Homo sapiens: one gene and its partners. The protein of the gene in region 1 interacts with the protein of each later gene in a biochemical or structural test. Each region holds a gene or a part of one and is shown on either strand. Other genes may lie near its edges.

The links. Proteins that work in one complex are often made in the same cells at the same time.
Region 2: the proteins of UTP4 (region 1) and WDR43 form a complex in vitro, tested with the Homo sapiens proteins (one study listed by IntAct).
Region 3: the proteins of UTP4 (region 1) and UTP15 form a complex in vitro, tested with the Homo sapiens proteins (one study listed by IntAct).

The regions. Positions count from the first base shown.
Region 1 is NC_000016.10:69,128,275-69,135,654, forward strand, and holds the start of UTP4 (U3 small nucleolar RNA-associated protein 4 homolog), read left to right. Parts: upstream 1-4,374; 5' UTR 4,375-4,415; intron 4,416-5,183; 5' UTR 5,184-5,185; coding exon 5,186-5,344; intron 5,345-7,380. UniProt on the Homo sapiens protein: Ribosome biogenesis factor. Involved in nucleolar processing of pre-18S ribosomal RNA. Part of the small subunit (SSU) processome, first precursor of the small eukaryotic ribosomal subunit.
Region 2 is NC_000002.12:28,939,667-28,946,688, forward strand, and holds part of WDR43 (WD repeat-containing protein 43), read left to right. Parts: intron 1-1,794; coding exon 1,795-1,908; intron 1,909-2,645; coding exon 2,646-2,715; intron 2,716-6,783; coding exon 6,784-6,833; intron 6,834-6,933; coding exon 6,934-7,022. UniProt on the Homo sapiens protein: Ribosome biogenesis factor that coordinates hyperactive transcription and ribogenesis. Part of the small subunit (SSU) processome, first precursor of the small eukaryotic ribosomal subunit.
Region 3 is NC_000005.10:73,561,328-73,568,764, forward strand, and holds the start of UTP15 (U3 small nucleolar RNA-associated protein 15 homolog), read left to right. Parts: upstream 1-4,415; 5' UTR 4,416-4,585; exon of another isoform or gene 4,586-4,859; intron 4,860-5,934; 5' UTR 5,935-6,017; coding exon 6,018-6,107; intron 6,108-6,907; coding exon 6,908-7,000; intron 7,001-7,092; coding exon 7,093-7,277; intron 7,278-7,437. Other genes in the region: ANKRA2 (ankyrin repeat family A protein 2), read right to left, coding at 1,266-1,554. UniProt on the Homo sapiens protein: Ribosome biogenesis factor. Involved in nucleolar processing of pre-18S ribosomal RNA. Required for optimal pre-ribosomal RNA transcription by RNA polymerase I.

The DNA.
Region 1 (7,380 bases):
GGAACAATAATTCTAGGTTGACAAGGTTAACTGCAGAGCCAGGGAGAGACTTCTGTGATGTAGCTTTTCAAAAAGATTTAAATTCATTATATTACAGTGTGGTATCAGACTCACAGGCCACAACTCATGTGTAGCCTTGGAAAGATAAGAAGGTATAAAGAAAACCAAACCTTTCCCTGCAATAAATTATGTATCCTGTCCCCAATCTCATGAGGAGGGAAAAAAGTTTTCTACTTGATCTTTATGGGCCTTCACGCAGCTAAATGAACTAAACAATACATAAATTCTGTATTCCTAAGTTAGTCAAACGACTTTATCTCAGTAAAGGAAACTTTTTTCCCCTCAAAAAGGCACCAGCATTCAAAGAATCAATCCTGACCCACAATGGGAACCCTACCCAAAACTAAAAAGCTTTGGCTGTAATCAGACCACTCTAGAATATACCTTATTTAACCAGCATTTGGCTTCTCTCTCTCTTTTGAAATTAGTAACTATTATTATAAAAAACCCGCCAGGCACGGTGGCTCACGTCTATAATCCCAGCACTTTGGGAGCCCAAGGCGGGTAGATCATGAAGTCATGAGTTCGAAATCAGCTTGACCAACATGGTGAAACCCAGTTTCTACGAAAAATACAAAAATTAGCCAGGCATGGTGGCGCTCACCTGTAATCCCAGCTACTCAGGAGGCTGAGGCAGGAAAATCGCTTGATCCTGGGAGGCGGTAGTTACAGTGAGCCGAGACTGTGCCACTGCACTCTAGCCTGGGTGACAGAGCAAGATTCCATCTCAAAAAACAGACAAACTGAAACAAAACAAAAAAAAAACTGGCAAATCAAAGCACCACCATGATTTCTTAAGAAAAGCCCAGGCAGAGGCCGGGTGCGGTGGCTCACACCTGTAATCCCAGCACTTTGGGAGGCCGAGGCGGGCAGATCACGAGGTCAGGAGATCGAGATCATCCTGGATAACACAGTGAAACCCCCTCTCCAGTAAAAATACAAAAAATTAGCCGGGCGTGGTGGCAGGTGCCTGTAGTCCTAGCTACTCAGGAGGCTGAGGCAGGAGAATGGCGTGAACCCAGGAGGCAGAGGTTGCAGTGAGCCGACATCACGCCACTGCACTCCAGCCTAGGCAACAGAGCGAGACTCCGTCACAAAAAAAAAAAAAAAAAAAAAGGAAGAAAAGTAAAGTCCAGGCAGAACATTATTTTTATAATACAAAAGGCTTCATTTCTCACAAGCTAGCCTCGTTCACTTATCTGTATCCTCTTATTTCACCCTGACACCCTATGCTTTTAGCAAGGTCTTCTCACTCCCATTTCACAAATGAGGAAACAGGCTTAGAGGAGCTAAATGTTAACTGGTCACACAGCTACTTAAGTGGAGAGCTGGGATATGAACCCTAACCCCTCCACAATCTGGCCCCTCTTGCAGTTCTCCTCACACAGCCCCCTCCTGTAAAGCACCTCTGTATGATAACTTCCCTTGCTTTACAAATATTAGCCTCGTTCTCACAGCATCTCTTACAAAATGGCAAAGTAACCTATGGAAAGACCTTGTAACTTGCCACCAAAGTATTATATCTGTGGGGTAGGCAGCTAAAAACAAAGAAGCAGCTTGCTTTTTATCATACCCAATTGAGATGTTTCAGTTTTTGAAACTTTTAGAAAAATCTACTCAATGCCACCTCTAGGACGCAAAGCTTTACCCTCTGCTCCTGAATGTGAAAGTCAAGAGAATAGAGGACATTCTTTGTCAAGTATTCATTTTAATCTTCCACAGAATTTAATTCTTACCCTCTGGTCTCTGAATTGTTAAATATTAAATTGTTAAAAGATTACTGTCTTACAGAGAACAGAACAGCCTGAGCAATGATCCTCATAATCCTTCAAAATAAAATGTGGCAGAAGAAAGTGTGATATGTATCCAATTAAACCGAACATATGGCTTATAGCAAAAAAGAGGCTTTGACTCAACGGTTTAACCTCAATACAAATAACTAAATTTTAATAAAGCTAAACAACGTTTTAGAAATTTTGTTTTTTTTTCAAACAGGAAACCAAGCCTTTAAATTCTCAACCCTTAAACATTCTTTTCTAAACTGGGGTGAAATCAATTATTTCAGAGTGTAAATATTCACAATTTTCTATTTTTTGCTAGGCCAACAGTTGGCATTTATTGAGCTTTTGTTTTTTGATCCCAGGGTGGATACTTTGTTTACGAATATAGTGAAGCACTCACTTGTCATACAGACCTGGATTCTGTGATTTTGCCACCTATCCCATATGTGACAGTGGGTAGTTTAACCTCACGTGTTTTCCTAACAATACACTGGGCATAAACACCTATTTTGAAAGGCTGTTGCAAGAACGAGTAATGAATGTAAAGCTTTTAGCACATTGTCTGACACATGGTAAGCCTTCAGGGTCAAGCTATCGATTTCCCAGAGAAAGGTGGCATTTTCTTAGTATTCATCAAATAGAATGTCTTAATACTACACTGTGTTAGCATATTAATGTTTATAACGGACTAAAGCATTCTACGAAAGCAGCAGGTCATCAGAATAAAATCAAGTTTTCATAACAGTAGAATTCAAACATGGCAGTTGTGGTTCACCAAACTGCTTCAGGGATTAAGTTCTGGAAGGTAATTTCTCTAAATATGATGACTATGTCTCTATGTGCCTTTCTACCAAGTGAACAACTCAGAACGTTTTACATACAACCGAATACAGATTATTTTTATTTGTAGTGTTATCGTGGTTTTGTAACTGAAGGGGACAGGTCTATACTTTTGAAGGGGATCTTGTCTCTTGAAAGGCTTATGTTACTAAGTCTAAAATCCTGTTTCCAAATGAGAATCTTGCTCCCCTCCAAAAAGGGGCTTATGGAGGGTTGGTGGAATTGAATGCTTCCAAACTTTACATTAGTGAAGTGTGTTCAAAAACGTGTGTGGATGCTATGCATACACGTGATACTTCCCATCACATTTTAGGATTCCCACGTTGGAGGGAATCAATTACTGGTATTTGTAGCAATGGGTGGAAAAGATGGCTTCAGTCGATCTGAGTTACTGCAGTTTTCTCCATCTTCTGCTACTCTGCAGCCCCATCTTAGCCTGTCCTCCTCTTAATGGTACGGCCCCCTGTACTCCCCCAAACCCTTTCCTTTCTAGCCCGGCGTAGAGTCTCCCTCTGTGCTCTTCCTCCCACCCACCCCCATCTTCTCCACCCACTCCCTCTCGGCCCCCTCCCACCCTTTCTGCTAGAGCTACAAACACTTCCTATTTCTAGTCCCACCCACTTTCTGGGACTTCTCAATCCGCTTCCCCCCTCTTCTCCACCCCCCTCCAAATTACAAGCTGTTTTAACCCCTTTTCCTGCCTCCCAGGGAAACTATTCTTTAAACCGCCTTCCTCCACACCACCCACTGGAGTGGTCTTCCAAACCGTTCACCCTCTTCCCAAAGATTACTCTTTAAACGTCCTTTCTCTACCACCCTCGTTCTCCAAATTGTTCCCGGTTCTCAAGTACTCCACTCCTCCAGGACCCCACCCCACTCGTCTCTCGGCTTCCCTCCCACAAAAGAACCTGGAATGACTCTCCAACCACCCTTCCAATTACCTCTCCCAGAAGCCTCCCCCCTCCACGATTACAAATGTTACCTGGAACAAAACCTCACGGTCCTAACCCCCACCCCGAACTCCCCTTTCTGCTCTTCCCGCTACTTCCTAGGTTCCAGTTCTACTCCGCTCCCGCAAGCATAGCGGGCTGGGCTCCCTCCCAACCCCGGGAAGAGCCCCTTCCCGCACGTACCTCGAGATTCCGGCCCTCGCCGCCCCCTTCTCCGTCCTCCGCCCGCGCTCGGCCACCCTTTCCGCCCTTCTCCCGCTCCGCCCCGCTCGCTCCCTTCCTTCCCTCCGCCTTCCGTCTCCACACCGCTCCCTTCCCCCACACTCCTGGCCCTCCCACCCCGGAGGCCCCTCCGGGCTTGCCCCCACCTCCGCGCCGCCCTCCCGCCGCCCTCCCCCTTCCCGGCCACCCCTCCCCCGCCCGCGCTCCCCGCCCCTCGGCTCGCCATTCTTCTCTCCGAGCCGCGCGCCCCGCCCGGCCCCGGCTCCCTAGCTTCCCGCTCCCTCGCGCCCTCGCCCCCAATCCCGGCTCGGCCCTCGCTCCCCGCAGCCTCCCGTGCCCCCCGCCCGCGGCCTGACCTGCAATGGCGGCCGCCGAGCGCGGCGCCGCGCGGCCAACGGGCGACAACCGAACCTCCCGCCGCCGTCGCCGCCGCCGCGAGCACTGCCTGCGCACTTCCGACTATGCGCCAGGAGCACTTCCGGGGCAGAGCCTGAGAGCGCGCGCGCACGTGGGGCCGGGGCGGAGAGAGGCGAGCACCGGGAAGGGGAGCGTGGGGCCGCTGGTGAGTTGGGGAAGGGGCGTGGGAAGCGGCTGCGAGAGCTGGGGGGGTCTTACAAGGTGGCCGGCCCAGGGTCGGCGTCCGGCTGAGCTCCTTGTCCCGAGGGTCTCCTTGTCCCGAGGCGGGGTGGGGGCTACTCTGTAGACTCGGGGAGAGGGAAGGGGAGGCGAAGACCGCGCGCGCCTCAGACGCCCCGGCCCGACCGAACGCGCTTGCTCTGTCTGCGGGTTCCTAACCTTGAAGCTAGGCCAGTGAGGGGCGAACAAGACCTGGTCTCTACTCTCGGCCAGTATATATGTTGGCGGGCGTCGGGGGGACGGGGTAGGGTAAGTGACAGACGTCAGACCAGGCAGCCAGATTAAGTCAAACCCTGTCGTTTCTTCCTCAAGAGGAGCTCGGTTCTGCCTGCCCCATCAGCCTCACTGTCACTACCTCAGTTTAGGTCTGTTGTTTGCAAACTTAGCAATAGAGTTGAGGAGAGATGCTTGCTAAAATGCGGATTCCTAGGCGCCCCGAGATAGGAACTCTGGAGCTATGGAGTAGGACCCTTTTTGATTTTTTGCTGAAGCCTCCTTATTATTCAAGCCATTCTGAGCTTTTGAAGATTGAGTAATTCTTGTGGGGGGCATTGTTAGCAGCCATTTGGAAATGAACTTCAGGGAGATGTTGTTGGAGCCTTCCAGCCAGAACAGTGATATTAAGGAACTGAATACTATATGTGACATACTGCAGTTAACATATAGCAATAATGACTCTCTTTTCGCCCCCTAGGAATGGGTGAATTTAAGGTCCATCGAGTACGTTTCTTTAATTATGTTCCATCAGGAATCCGCTGTGTGGCTTACAATAACCAGTCAAACAGATTGGCTGTTTCACGAACAGATGGCACTGTGGAAATTTATAACTTGTCAGCAAACTACTTTCAGGAGAAAGTAAGTCATTTGGGAGTCTGATATGGTGTTTTGATGTTAATTTCTTCTGAAGTTCAAGAAGCTTGTATGTCTTTTATAATCAAACTGATTGAGTGACTTCCTAGCCCCTCTGAAGTTGCTTAGAACTACCAAACTTCTGAGATCTCCTAACTGATAAGAGAAGCTCAGTTTCAATCTGTGTAATGTTGATTAGAAGGGTCCTACCTAGAAATGTGACATCTCACTGCCTGTCATTGGAAACTGAGGTTTGCTGGATCTTTTGGACACAGGAAGGGAAATTGTTGGTATATCAGTCTCAACACCATTGCAGCTTTGGTAAGCAAAATTTCCTGCAGGGAGTATCAGTACTGTTTCATTGTCAATTCAGAAAAAATGATAACACGTTTTAATATCAGAAACTTTTTGGTGATGTGGGAAGATGGATTCCAAAGTTCATCTGTCTGAGAGAATGTAGACCTACATGTCTACATTTGGGAGTAAAGGAGATTTAAAATTAGGTAAAATGTCCTTTGGGTGTATGCAGAGGTCTATTAGTCCTTTTTCTTCTCCCCTCCAAGGGCACTGACTAGTGATTTTCTTCGGGTGCAACATCTTAGTTCATGTTGAATGACTGTTATGTACTGGGTGCTGTGATATAAATGAGTAGATGGGCAAATGAGTGAATTCAGTGCCCAGCAGCCTGGTACCTGGAATTTAGGCATTCTGTAAATGTTTCTCGGTGAATGAGTGGCAAATACTGGGCACTAAGACAAATGTCAGAGGCCCTAACTTTACGGAGCTCAAAGACCAGTGGGAGAAAGATAAGTGTACAGTTTCCAACCTGTAAAATAAATATGATAAACCGAAACACAGGCATAGAACCTTCATTGAATTGCCTTCAGGGAAGGCAATTCAGAGAATTGCCTTCCCTGAGAGGTGGGTTTAGGAAATGTGGAAAGGGATGATTTACTGAGCTCACCCCTGAAGAACTAATCAAAAGGTAAAAACTACAGGACCACCACAAATGGGTTACATTCTGTGGTATGAAGAACATGCGCTGGCGTGTGCTTATTGCATCCTGTGATTTTCTTTTTTTTTCTTTTTCTTTTTTTTTTTTTTTTTGGAGACGGAGTCTTGCTCTGTCACCCAGGCTGGAGTGCAGTGGCGTGATCTTGGCTCACTGCAACCTCTGCCTCCCTCTCCTGCCTCAGCCTTCCAAGTCGCTGGGATTACAGGTGTGCCACCATGCCTCGCTAATTTTTTTATTTTCATAGAGACGAGGTTTCACCATGTTGGCCAGCCTGGTCTCGAACTCCTGACCTCAAGTGATCTGCCCACCTCAGCCTCCCAAAGTGCTGGGATTACAGGTGTGAGCCCTCATACCAGACTGATTATCTTTTTCTTGGTCTTGTTCTTCTTCTTTTTTTTTTTTTTTAACAGTCATGGCCATATTATGATTTTTCTGTTTGTCATTTGTAACAGTTATAACTATATAATTTGTGTGTTTGTTTAATGTCTTTCTTCCATGCTGAACTTCCAATTTTATGAGGATAGGAACCATGTCAGTGATACTCACATCTGCATTCCCACCATTTATCAAGCGCCTCCTACAAAGCCACTGCTTAATGTTTCTTGAATGGATAAGTCAACCATTCCTTACCTAGTGTTCCTTATTTTCTTTTCTCCTTCATCTGTTTTCTTTATTCTTCAACAATTAATTAACTCAGGCTGGTTTCCTGCTTTCCCTATATTCCCTTTCCTACTAGATACGATTGCTTAGCTCTGTCAGTGACTCTCAGAGCAAGAAAAAATTAGTACGTTAAAGTGAAAAGAGGCAGGGCAGAGTGGCTCACACCTGTAAACCCAGCGCTTTGGGAAGCCAGGGCAGGTGGATCACTTGAGCCCAGGAGTGTAAGACCACCCTGGGCAACATAGTGAGACCCCATCCCTAAAAAAATAAATAAATAAATTAGATAGGTGTGGTGTTGTATGCCCATAGTTCCAGCTACTTGGAGGGTTGAGGCGGAAGGATCGCTTGAGCTCAGGAGGTTGAGGCT
Region 2 (7,022 bases), on another chromosome or scaffold:
AAAGGGAGGTGATAAATTGGAATGCAATGACCTTAAACCTTGCTTTACTAATTTTTGTGTCTGTCTGCTGTTTAAAGTTAACATTTGAATGAAACACTTTTTTACTAAAGTATTAGAAATAGGAGTGCAGGTAAAGGCTAATCAGAGGTAAGGAGTGGAGTCTGGGCACGGTGGCTCACACCTGTAATCCCTGCACTTTGGGAGGCTGAGGCGGGTGGATCATGAGTTCAGGAGATCAAGACCATCCTTTCTAACACGGTGAAACCCCGTCTCTACTAAAAATACAAAAAATTAGCCGAGCGTGATGGCAGGTGCCTGTAGTCCCAGCTACTCGGGAGGCTGAGGGAGGCAGGAGAATGGCGTGAACCCGGGGGGGCAGAGGTTGCAGTGAGCATAGTTCATGGCACTGCACTCCAGCCTGGGCGACAGAGCGAGACTCCGTCTCAAAAAAAAAAAAAAAAAAGAATGGAGTCCGTTTTTCTGTAGTGCTACAGGGACAGATAAAAGAATATCAGAATATCACGGGGGTAGGGGGTGAGGTGGGGAAGCCAGCGTTGTTCTTTTTCTTTTTTTTTTTCTTGAGACGGAGTTTTGCTCTTGTTGCCTAGGCTGGAGTGCAATGGCACGATCTTGGCTCACCGCAACCTCCGCCTTATGAGTTCAAATGATTCTCCTTCCTCAGCCTCCCGAGTAGCTGGGATTACAGGCACATGCCACCATGCCTGGCTAATTTTTGTGTTTTTAGTAGAGATGGGGTTTCTCCATGTTGGTCAGGCTGGTCTTGAACCCCTGACCTCAGGTGATCTGCCCGCCTCAGCCTCCCAAAGTGCTGGGATTACAGGCATGAGCCACCGCGCCCAGCTGCCAGCGTTGTTCTTAGAGCCCAGAGATGGGAGGAAAATTAACCAGAGGCAGGTATTTGAAGGCAGTGGGACAGGAAGAGGCTTGTTCTGGACTTCCAAATGGCTTCCTTTAAAAAGAGGCATTTAAATTTTTCCAGTTGCTTTTTATAGTTGATCTAGGATAGAAAAATTATGGCCATCATGGTTTCCTTTCATATTGTTAAAAATGATCAAGGGGACTTTAAGATTTTATGAGAAAGGCAAATTACCATTGTTTTATTCCTCAGTGAACCTGGAGGAGCCAGACCTTTATCAGTCGTGTTGTGTTCCAAATATAACAGCTATATTCTCAATACAAAAGACTCTGATGAGAGCAACATGGGAGCAAAAAAGAGAATGTCCTACTTTCATTTTTTAAATATGTTTCAGAGGACTCATTAACAGGAAGTATATTTAAAATGCAAAAGGTCAACTTTGTACTTTGTTCTACTGGTCTCTGGGAGCTGGGAAAAGGCTTCTCTGCCTCTTTGGGGCCTTACAGTAAGGGTAGATAATATGCTAGCATCAGAGGATAAGATTCAGAGGAAAGCCTCTTTAGCCTGGAGATACGTGGTAGAGGCATTTTTAATTTCCTGTCTACTTTATATGGGATATTGGCCTTATCTGAAATAGTTTGATCAATACAGAAAAGTGCCACCTTGCAGTTTCACTCTCTTGCCCTTATATCATTTTTTTTATAAGCCTATTATTTTTTCCTCCTAGGACATTGAGGGTCTTCTGTGAAAATTCGTGATGTTGTTAGGCTATGTTGCAGGTAGCCACTGCCACTGGGAGTACTTGTAAGCAGATGTGTGTGGTGCAGTGGCTAAATACTGAGGCATAGCTGAGCATGATTTGCGTGTTCGTCATCTCTAATACGTTAATAGTGCCAAATGATCATTTTTTTCTCTAGTTGCCTGACCTGGTACCCCAGCTGGGGACACTCTACCAGTTAATGGAAAGCAGAGTCAAAACTTTTCAGAAACTTTCACACCTTCATGGAAAGCTTATTCTTCTAATTACACAAGTGAGTAAATCATATTGTTCTGGGCTAAAACTTTTGGACATGGTAGGAATGGAGAGAGGAATAAGGATCATTTTGAGACAGGGTCTTGCTCTGTCGCTCAGGCTGCACTGCGGTAGCATGATCATAGCTCACTGCAGCCTCGCTCAAGTGCCTCCCAAGTAGCTGGGACTACACGGATGCACCACCATGCCTGGCTAATTTTTAAATTTTCGTAGAGATGGCATTGCCTAGGCTGGTTTTGAACTCCTAGGCTCAAGGGATCCTACCACCTTGACCTCCCAAAGTGCTGGAATTACAGGCGTGACCCACCACGCCTGGCTGAGAGCTCCCTGTTTCAGTAAGAAATTGGTAAATCAGGATCTAGTCTTTAACTTGGAAAGCTTATCAGTTTGACAGTAAGAAAGTTTAGTTGTGTCTGTTTCAACTTTTACTCAAATCTTTTTCTCACCATTGTGTTTCAGTTGTTATACAGTTAGTAAGTTATAGGATATTTATACAGTTAAAATTTTGGCACAGAAAGATATTCTAATCACCTCAGAGTTTTTCAGCTTTACAGAGTAATTCTTTCCCTCTTGTATTTGAAGGACTTTTTTGCTCTGTATTGTATGAAGGTCCTCCATTATGGTGGTGGAGGGTGAGTTAGCAGCAAGCAGTGGGGAAGGTTGGGTATGCTGGTGGTCGTGATACTTGGGATATGTTTACACTCTACTTCAGAACAGTACTTTATCTTCTTCCAGGTAACAGCATCAGAGAAGACAAAGGGAGCAACTTCCCCTGGACAGAAGGCAAAGTTGGTGTATGAAGAAGGTAAAGACTGGGGGAATGGGATGGAGTCTAGAATTATAACATTCAGTTTTCAGTGACTGAGTTCTGTTATCTTTTTGAAAACGTCAACATAAGATCTTCCTTTGGCAAGCCTTCTCTAATTAAAATAGGCAAGTCCGTGGCAAAAATCTGTAATTCATCAGATAAGAAAAGAAAAGGCACAAGTATAATACAGTGACAAAAAAGGGCATTAGTTATGGAAGATTTTTTTTTTCTTTTCTTTTTTTTTTTTTTTAAGACAGTCTCAGTCTGTTGCCTAGGTTGTAGTGCAGTGCTGTGATCACAGCTTGCTGCAGCCTCAACCTCCTGGGCTCAATGCAATCTTCCTGTCTCAGCCTCCTGAGTAGCTGGGACTACAGGCGTGCACCACCATGCCCGGCCAACTTTGGTATTTTTTTGTAAAGACAGAGTTTCACTATGTTGCCCAGGATGGTCTCAAACTCCTGGGCTCAAGTGATCCCAATGTGCTTGGATTACAGGTGTGAGCCACCATGCCTGGCCAGGTATGGAAAATATTTAAATAGAAGAACATTATATGAACAAACTTAGTGTAAATACATTTAAAAGTCTAGGTGGTATAGTTAATTTTTAAGGAAACATTAATGACCAAAATTGACTTTAAAAGAAATAAAAAGTTTGAAAAAGCCAGTAGCTCTAAAATTGACTTTATAAAACTTCTCACAAGATATGCCCAGATATTTTGAAGGTTATTTGATCAGGCCTTCAAAGAACAAATCTTTTCTTTTCTTTTTTGCACAGACTCTCTCTGTTGCTCAGGCTGGAGTGCAGTGGCTCGAGGTCAATCATAGCTCACTGCAGCCTCAAACTCTTACACTCAAGCGATCATCCTGCTTCAGCCTCTAGAGTAGCTGGGACTGTTGAGCCACCATGCCTGGCCAATTTTCTTTTTTTAAAGGTAGAGATGAGGTCTCTTTGTTGCCCAAGCTGATCTTGTACACCGTGGCCTCAAAAACGGTCTTCTCGCGTCAGCTTCCCAAAGTGCTGGGAATAGAAGCATGACCCACAACACTGGGCTGTCCTTTTTGTCATGTACTGGCAATTTAGTCATTTTATGAGCCAAGTATAATCTTGATAACAAAACCTGGAAATGTCAAAAAGGGAACATTTTAGATCATCCTCAAATACCCTGAGTAGCAAATTGATTATAGAAGTGTAGGGTTACAGAGTTAATGTGCAATAATAGACAGCTAGACCAATAGATTGGCAATAGCTACCCCTGAAAAACCCGTAGTTCTGTGGACTCTTGGTGTGTTTATTGATGGTGTGTATTGTATCATTGTGGAGAAGATAGCCTGCTCAGTAAGTTGTTAGAAACACTGATAATTTATATGGAACAAAAAATTTTACCATTATCACATCACACATCACATTCCATATTGTGAGAAATGGATAAATTTGAAAGAGTGAAAATGGTCAGGTGTTGGCCATGATTTGGGAAATGGGAGCTCATGCTGTGGTGGGAGTACATGTGCATTCTTTTTAGAGAGCAACTTTGTAATCTCAAAGTTGACAATTTGCATATCCTTCCATTCATCAAGTGCAGTCCCAAAGTGATCCCAAAGTGCTTGTGTGTATCCCAGTGACCAATACTTCTCCAAGTATGAACAGAGGACCTGTGGGGATGCCCAGAACTCTTTGAGCGGCTCATGATGTCCTCCGCTTTTCAATCGGTCATCTGTGGGAGGCTAGATTTTCTTCATATAGTTCAAATAAAACAACATATCCAAAAAATAGAGTGGAGAAGCAGATATGAGAAGTTTTTAATAGTGCCATTCTACTTAGTAGAATTTGTTGTTGTTTTGGAAATTCCATTTTTCAATTTTAGTGTATGTGCTGCCGAAGAGAGCACAGAAATACTGTTTTTCATTAAATTGATTTGTGTTAACATGTAATGGATGGGCATTTGTAAACAGATTAAATATTCTTAAATTTAAAAATTGAATTTGAATGTGATAAATATAGATAGACTTTTCCCACATAAACAAAAACTTTTTGGAGACCTCAGTTTTTTAAGAATGTGAAAGCATTTTAAGGCTAAAAGGCTTGACAACATAGCTTTAAAACATATATGTAGAGATTATATAAGTATGTTCATTGCAGCCTTTATAATTAAGAAAAAGACTTGTGAACAACATAATTCTTCATTAGTGGGAGCATGTTTAAAATGGTTTATTCCTTTAGCATAACACTACATTGGTGAGAGTGCCTGGAGTTGAGATCGAGTTAACACGCATAAGTTTGATTACAAAACCAAGTCAAAAAATGATACCTTCTGTGTAGCATCGTGTAATTGTATTAGTAAGCAAAATAAGGGTGGCTTGAACATAAGCTCCGCGATACTGCAACATTCGATTTGATAACTGAGGTGGCTACTAAACGACTAACGGGTGGCTAGTGTAGACAGCGAAGCTGGACAAAGGGATGATTTACCTCTCCGGCCAGGCGGAGCCAGATAGCACGGCACTTCATCACGCTGCACATAACAGGGCGCAATTTAAAACTTAGGGATCCTGGATTTGGTACATTTTCCATTTAATATTTTTGGATTGCAGTTGCCAGGGGAAACTGAAACTGGGGAAAAGGAACACATATTGGGGGAACTGCTGCATATGTCTTTCATGAATATGTACATGTGTAATTCATGGGTAGTATGATGTATGTGTTATAACAGCATACTGGAGAATGAGAAGCTCACAATAGTGGTTTCTTTTGGGGAATGGGCTTAGGGAGATGGGCATGTAAGGGAACTTCATCTGGAGATAATGATTTATTTTCTTAAGAAAAAGTAGATAGAAGAAGAATGTTAGAATATCTTAAAAAAATAGGAATCCCATTCTGTATTATTGGATAACATTAGCACACCTAATGAAATCAATTCCTTAGTTTTATCCAATGCCCAGTTTATCTTCATCTTTCTCCAGTTATCCGTAAAATATCCTTTAAAGCTGTTTTTCCCAAACTAGACTCGAGTTTTGCATCATGGGGTTGAATCTGGCTACTGTGTTTCTGAAGACTCTTTTTAGTCTTTAAGAACTCCCTTTTTCATGACATGGACTTGGTGAAGAGACTGGGAAGTGTATTTCACAGAATGCCCCACCTTATGTTTGTGGATTTGCTTCCTTTTGGTTTCTTTTAATTTGCTCCTCTAAGCTACAGTTCCTTTAAACTGGATGTGAGGCCTAAAGGTTTGATTGGATTTTATTTTTGGAGGGTTGCATCAATGCTGATCGTTCATATTGCAGCACACTAAGAACCACATTGTGCCTGTTATCAGTTTTTTCCTCTCCATTGTGAGATATATCTTCCTTAGTGCTTAGAAAATAATCTAGCTGTGTTAATTTTTGTTTTAACGTTTGCATGTTTTCCCCCAACAATCATACATCTAATATATCAGTTGCTAATATTTCATTATTAGTACTTTATGGGTTAAATAATGCTAATTCTTCCATTTCGTTTATAAGCCAGCTTTTCTGTGTTGAATTTTTCCTCATCCACTGGGGCTATTTGGTGGCCCTGATAGGGCTTAGTATTTAAAGATGAGATTTTTGTAAGGGTTTGGCTAGTTGGTTTGGACCGGTGAGATCTTGAAGGAATAATATAATGAATATACTTTTATACATGTAAGAATAAATTAGCCAGGTGTGGTGGCTCATGCCTATAATCCCAGCACTTTGGGAGGCAGACGTGAGCGGATCCTTTGAGTCCAGGAGTTTGAGATCGGCCTGGGCAACATGGTGAAACCCTGTCTATACCAAAAATTAGCTGGGTGTGGCGGCTACTCAGGAGGCTGAGGCAGGAGCCTGAGGCTTGAACCTGGGAGGCAGAGGTTGCAGTGAGCCAAGATTGCTCCACTGCACTCCAGCCTGCAAAAAAAAAAAATAATAAAATAATGTTATTTCTTAGTTGGATGATTGCTAAATATAAATAATATTTCTAAAAGTAAATTCAGGAATCTGGTTCTGCTTAATTTCCAGGCTGTACCCTCTGTTTTGTTCTAAAATTAAGGCTGGGTTCTTTCTCCCCTTACAGAGTCTTCTGAAGAGGAGTCTGATGATGAAATAGCAGATAAGGATTCTGAAGTGAGTGATTTGTTCCCTGTATATACATCGGCCTTTATATCCTCATACTCTGTAAGAATGAGACCTTCATGAATGCTTTCCTTGTTGGTATTTCGACTAGGATAATTGGGATGAAGATGAGGAGGAGAGTGAAAGTGAAAAAGATGAGGACGTTGAAGAGGAAGATGAGGATGCCGAAGGAAAAGATGA
Region 3 (7,437 bases), on another chromosome or scaffold:
AGTAAGAGTTCTATGTCAATGTCTACATTTGAAAAGAAATACATGAGGTGTAATAGCTTCAATTAAACTATTTATCAAGTGATACTAAATTGTTTTTATCATTAAAGTCCATACTTCCTTGTTTGCATAATGGTTAGTCAAAAAAAAAAAAAGTCTAGGCTGGGCATGGTGCTCACGCCTGTAACCCCAGCACTTTGGGAGGCCAAGGCAGGTGGATCACCTGAGGTCAGGAGTTCAAGACCAGCCTGGCCAACATGGTGAAACCCCATCTCTACTAAAAATACAAAAAATTAGCCGGGCTTGGTGGCAAACGCCTGTAATCCCAGCTACTCGGGAGGCTGAGGCAGGAGAATTGCTTGAACCCAGAAGGCGGAGGTTGCAGTGAGCCAAGATCTCGCCACTGCACTCCAGCCTGGGTGACAGAGAGAGGCTCTGGCTCAAAGAAAAAAAAAAGTCTACATAACCATAGTGAAAGTTCTGGAAGAAAATATATTAATCTTGGGTGATGTTATCCTAAGAGAATAGTTTTATTATTCAGGGTATCATTATAAAAGCAAATCTAGAGCATGATGACAGACTTCACTGCATTAAAGCACAGAAAGTAAATGCATATTAAATATTCATAGAACAGGAATATTCAGGAATGGATATTACGCTAATTCATCTCTAAAAGGAACATGATTTTTTTTCTTATGATTTTATTTTTTGAGACAGAGTCTCACTCTGTCACCCAGGCTGGAGTACAGTGGCACAGTCTTAGCTCACTGCAACCACAGCCTCTGTGGTTCAAGCAATTCTTGTACCTCAGCCTCCCAAGTAGCTGGGATTACAGGTGGACGCCACCATACCCGGCTAATTTTTGTATTTTTAGTAGAGACGAGGTCTCATCATGTTGGCCAGGCTGGTCTTGAACTCCTGACCTCAAGTGATCTGTCCACCTCGGCCTCCCAAAGTGCTGGGATTACAGGCATGAGCCACTGTGCCTGGCCCTATGATTTTAAAAGGAATAATAGGGAACTTCATTAGGGAATTTGTAAACAAATATTAAACAAGAAGTTTTTAAAAAAATCAACATGTACTTCCTTTAAATTAGATATTATATAATCTGAAATTATTTTAATTTTGGTTTCTATGAGATTCCAGAAAATCATATTAAAAAATGACTTCTAAACTGTCTTCCCAAACTCAAAATCTCATGATTGGGAAAATAACCCAAATATACAAAAACAAAAACAAATGCAGATATTTATACCATAACTTTCAACCTTTAAATAGGACAGATGCCACCTCCAGGTCAGAGTTAACCTGATCTTGAATATTTTTACTATCTTCTTCATTTAAGGACTTCACAAATCGAGAACACACATTCATATCAAATCGGTTAGGCAATATGAATTTCATTCCCATGGCAACACCCTGAGCTGACCCTTCTTCTGAATTTGGGTCCAGTGGATGTTCTATTTTAATGTCTGGCATGCCAGTTAGGCTATAAGTGCTGGGACACTCTTCCACGATAAGCTGGGCTCCAATATCCAGATTTGTTGATGTATCCATGATTTCAACTGTAGTTTCAATAACTAAAACATTTCTTCATGATTTCCTCTTGGTTTTGTAAGAGCAGTATCCAGTGTGTTCTTGGAATCTGGATATTTAAAAATCTGAAAGAAAAAATTAGAAAATTAAAAGTATTCTATCAGCTTAGGTAAAAACACACAAAATAATCATTTTCAATCAAGTATTGTAACAATGCTCTTGAAAGCACCTACACATAATAGAAAGAATATAATGTTCAGAGGTAGAGAAACCTGGGTATGAATCCAAACTTTGCCATTAATTAGCTGTGTGACCTGTAGAAGTTACTCAATCCCTCTGAGCTTCCGTGTCATTTATAAAATAGGGATATCACCATTAACCTTATAGGGTTCTGGTAAAGACCAAATGAAATACTGTACAGTGATATTCTCACCTCCATCATTAAATTCCAATACATTTTAGTTACTGTTTCTCCCATTTCCTATATCTGAATATCACCAAATGGATAAAAGATCAGGCTAACAATGAAAATAAACTTTAATCTCTTACCTAAGGTTAGTTCTTTAATATGCTATGTTTATATAGGTGGCCCTTAGTTTGAATTTAAGAAATGATAATTCATGTTGTATCCAAGTTTATTGGCATTGTCATCTATAACACCTGTGATTCCTAGACCATGAAAGGCTTTACAAAGCTTTGGTTTTGATGAACTGAAGGTACATTTATGAATTTTTGTTCCGATTAAGCATTAGCAACTTAATGTAGGTTTTCATGAAAAATAAAGTAGGTAGATTATGGATTGGCTTTCCAAGATGTATAGTTGTCTTAGATACATTATCATTTGGGACAGAAAGGAAATTAATAACATCCAGTTAATTTTTTCATGTTAGGGTTAATTGCCTCTTAGGAATTTTGAGAGGGTGCAGGGTGTTTCAAAATTGGAATTGGAATTAAAAGAAAAATGCATTAGGATCGCAGTGGAGCAAGGGTCGCGAAACCATACATTTACAGATAACCACCTTCTACAATTTTAAAAACATTTTCAAAGATTAGTCTTTATAACAATCCTTTGAGTAGGCAGGTCAGGTAATCATATGTCCACCTAGGAGGGGTAAAAAAGGAAGCTCATGAATTATGAGGGCTTACTCAGCTCTTCTGACTCCATCACTCTGACCATTAAAATGAGGCAGCCCTAAACAAAGCCAAAATCTCCACGAGAGAGTTGAATAAATAACACATAGTATAGTAAGGAAAAAAAAAAAAAGCAGGAAGTAAGAAGGTTAATACATTTGGGCAAAAAGAAGGAAACCAGAAAAGAAAATTAGTTCAGTGATTCAAAGGGAGATGGATGTGCAATGCATTAGTCCATGCGTCTTAAAAGGGACTGGACAATGTGAACTGTGTTTCCTGAGGGAAGAACCATCTCCCCCTTTCTCCTATCCAGCGGTTGGCTAAGTGCAACTCCCCTAAGCTCTCTGAGCACCCTGCATGTATCTGTATTTTAGCATTCACCATCCTTTTGACAATTTCCATTTAAATAACAGCTAAATTGAAAACTCCCCTAGGATGGGGACCACTCTTACTAATTTTTGCACACAGAACAGTACTTGGTCCTACCAGGTGCTCCATAAATGTTTTCTGATCTTAACTTTAACAATTTTTTCCATATTCTTTTCTATTTCTAACATTTGCTGATTAGACCTGGCTTTCCACTCCCAACATCGCTACTAACTAGCTGGCCACTCCTGGACAAATAAATAATACAAGTTTTCTGAAATTCATCTATTATAAAAAGGTGTTGAAATAGGCCTTTCTAATATTCTTTCCAGCTCTAAACAGCTTCCATGTTACAAATCAGGGTTTATAGATGGAATTACAGGTCTTCGAGAGGAGAATAGCAAATGTGCTTAGGCGAAGGGGGTGGGTGGAAAATGAACGCTTATCTTGGCACAGCAGTTTAACGAGAGGAGAAGCAAAGTTGATTGGTAGGCCAAAATTTTGAAGAACAGGAGAGGGAGGCGGGGGTGAGGGGAGTGGGGTAACAGGACTTAGAAGAGGTGGTGGTGAGAAAAAGGGGGTAAGGCAATCGATAGCTAGGTTCACCTCGATCTGTCAGAGCCCAGGGATGAAGGGATAGAGAGTCTACGGAGATAAAGTGGGCAGCTATGCTAGTTCCTGTGGATGCTAATAACAGGAGCCCCTCGTTTCTTCCTGATCCTGGAATTATTCTACAAGGAGAGGAAGGTGCTATGAAAATAAATGATGCCTCACAGGCGACAGGTGTCCCAGCGTCCCGAGACAGGAGCCCGCTGTCTCCCGCTGGAGGGGAGACTCTTGCAGGAAAGAAAGTCCGTTCTGTCGCCACCGGCCAGCTGTGCCCGAAAAGTCCCAGGAAGAAACTCTCGCTCATCCGCGGCGAGCGGATCCCGGGCACAGGGGCTGGAGGCCGACCCGGTGAGAGTGCAAGGTCTCGCGACCACCGACGACAGCAGACAGCGAGTCGGGCCTTCCCATCTGAGGCCAGCTTCAGTACAGGCCTCCAAGCCCGGGCTTGTTTTGGCCGCGACGTCACTTCCGATTTCTTCTTTCGCCTTCTGGCTAAAAAACGTTCCGCAGCAATGCAGCTGAAACTTTCGGGTTTTCTTTTTTTTGTCCCTCTCTCCTTTTTTTTAATATTTTTGTTTTTGCCGCCTTTACGCTCCGAGGCCCATCCTGCCGGAGTACTACACAGACAGGGTCATTTCAGTTGACGGTTCTGGGTCACCAGAGCAGAGGAAGCCCCAATTTCGCCCTCCGGTCACACCTCCTACTCCAGATCGCCCCGCCCACCTGACCCGCCTCTGCGCCGCCGGGCTGCGTGAGTCTCATGAGCGTGCTCTGGTACGTCATCTTCGCGCGACGTTCGGTTCGCTGTGTGTGTCGCCGGCTCCTTGAGGGTCCATGTGATTTTTACGCCAGTGCTGCTGAACTGTGCAGGGTAGGGAGCTGGCACAGTCCGATTAATTGTCCTTGGGTCGAGGTGTCTCGTCGGACCCTTTGGGGCTCAGTGGAGGTAGGTGAAGGCGGCTCCCATTGAGGGAAGCCCACACTCACACCCGGCCTTCCTGTGTTAATCTGGCATGCTCTTCTGGGGCTTCCCAGGCTATATAGGAGAGTGGCCAAATTCTTTAACCGGCTCAAGTTCCCCTCAATTAAGCTTCGACCTAGGTTCTTCTCTGCGATTACACCCTTTCCTGTCCACCGTTGTTAGTTCCCGGAGTAATCAGCAACTCTCCAAGGCAATGGACACATTTCCATCTTTGCCTTTGCTTACGAGGCTCCCTCAGGTGAAGTGAACCTAATGGAGTTTTAAAATATTTGGGAGATAAAATCAGCAGATCTTGTTAACTATTTGGATGTTAGGAGTGAGGAAGAAAAGGACACGTCAAGGCTGAGTCTAGGTTAATATCTGGTGCCAGTCACCAGCCAAAATGGAGTATATTGGAGTAAGCAAAGGCACAGACCATGTCTTTATTTCATTCACCATTATAGCCCCAGTGCCTAGAGCAGTGTCCTGCACATTGGTAGGTACTTTAATGAACAGAAGAGTGTTCCCAAAGACCAGTGAAATACAATCATTGGTCATTGTATTTCATTAAAGCACCTTTTAAATATATGTTACACCTATTTATCGTGGTGTTACTAATGTAAAGTTTTCAGGCTTTTTGGAATAGATGATGAGCAGCACCTCTGGAATCATTTACCTGATAACATTGAATCTCTTTTGCAATTGAGTCGTTCTGGAAAAATGTTTTGGCTTGATTGCATGTTATTTAAAAGTTTTATCCTATTCTGCCACTTTAGTGTTGAATTTAATTTCAGGACTGCTTTATTACAGTTTTCTTTCCTACTGTTTAAACCTTTTAAAGTAAATTTAATTTTAAGCTTCTACATTAGAATATTAGCTTTGTGTTTCTTACTTCTTGGCATTTTTAGGCTTTCAGGAAATCAAATCCGTAACTATAATTGTTATAGATTAAATGTCATCTTAAACTTGGTTTCAGGAAACTTGTATTTGCAGTTTCACCTTAATATTTCCTGTTGCCAAAAAATGGACACTCAAAGCCAGCATGATCCTTTTTGGTTTGGCTACTGTAAGGCTGTGCTAGATTTATTCCTAAGTGTTGTAAAATGGTTGGCTAGGTGTGAGAACCTTTGTGTACAGCTGAATAGATGGTGCGATATGATAGCCTTCACTTTAATTATTCCTGCTTCCTATAGATTGCCTTTTCTGGGTTAGAATTAAATGGCTTATTGGTCTCTAATCTATATACTTCCACACAGACTTTTTAAAGAAAGCAGAGTGAAAATCAACTATGTGTACAAGCTTATAATATGTATATAAAATATTTTATTTTTCAGAATTAAGGCAGAGTCACTGTAATTATTTCTAATACCAATTCCAAAATAGTGACTCTTGGACAATAGTGCAATTATATGGAATTATGGCTGGTTATAAGCCTGTAGCTATTCAGACATATCCTATACTTGGTGAAAAAATCACCCAAGATACACTGTACTGGAACAACTATAAGGTGAGTGTGGGACGTAATGAGGGAGAAGGGATTTGTGTTTATGCCAATTTCTCTAGCATATGTTATACTCTGGATGCTCTAACAGAGAATTATTAACTGAAAACCATCTATCAGCAGCTTATAGTTTGGGCAGATAATTTGATATCTATTTTTTCTTGGAATTTTATGTAAAAGTCCATACTGCTTAATCAGATTAACCATACAAATGCCTAGCACAGAACAGATGATCAATCAATGCCAAATGAATTAAATTTTAAAATTTGAATCTCATATGTGTAAAGATGTTTATTGAAGTATTGCTTGTAATAGTAGAAATCTTGAAAAACCCATGTCTATTAGTAGTGGACTGGTATAGTAAATTACAGTGTGCCCTTATAATGGATGGTAAGTCTATTGCTCCTATGAAAGCTAATATGTGTTACTAAGTGAAAAGAAGCAAGATGTGGAACAGCCTACATGGTATGATTATCTTTTTGTTATTTTAAAAGTACAAGTACGTGGTTATTGTATGCTGGTGTAGACATGATAACTTTTTTTTTCTGGTAGAAATCACAGTAAACTCAATAGCTGAAGAGACAGAGTGGGGTGTGGCTTTCTAACCATATGTTTATTTCAGTGGCAACAAGAATAGTCTGGGTGATGAGATATGTACCTTTTTTGCTTTCTTTGTAATTTTATGTTAAATACAACTTAAGAAATGTTACTAAGAACAAAGAGAAACGGTCTGTAAGAAATTATGTAATGCATAAATAGGTCTTACCAGTGGTAACTCTGTTAACACACTATTATTTTTTATTAAGACCCCTGTTCAGATTAAGGAATTTGGTGCAGTTTCAAAAGTAGACTTTTCTCCTCAGCCTCCATATAATTATGCTGTCACAGCTTCCTCAAGAGTAAGTATAATATTAAATTTCTTTATTTTTCTTTTGTATAGTTTACTACTGATCTTGAGCCATCTGGTGAAATACTGTTTTTCATCTTGTAGATTCACATTTATGGCCGATACTCCCAAGAACCTATAAAAACCTTTTCTCGATTTAAAGACACAGCATACTGTGCTACTTTTCGACAAGATGGTAGATTGCTTGTGGCTGGCAGTGAAGATGGTGGAGTTCAACTTTTTGATATAAGTGGGAGGGCTCCCCTCAGGCAGTTTGAAGGCCATACAAAGTAAGAGACAGTTGGTTTCTGTGTGTTCTGGTTTTATTTTGTTGTAAGCTCTTTTTTTCTCTGGACTTTGGTTAAAAAGATAGAGATCAGTTTTATGGAGATTATTTGCCTATAGGTACTATATTTCCTGATTGTTCTAAGAGTGCTTAACTTGGGTTCC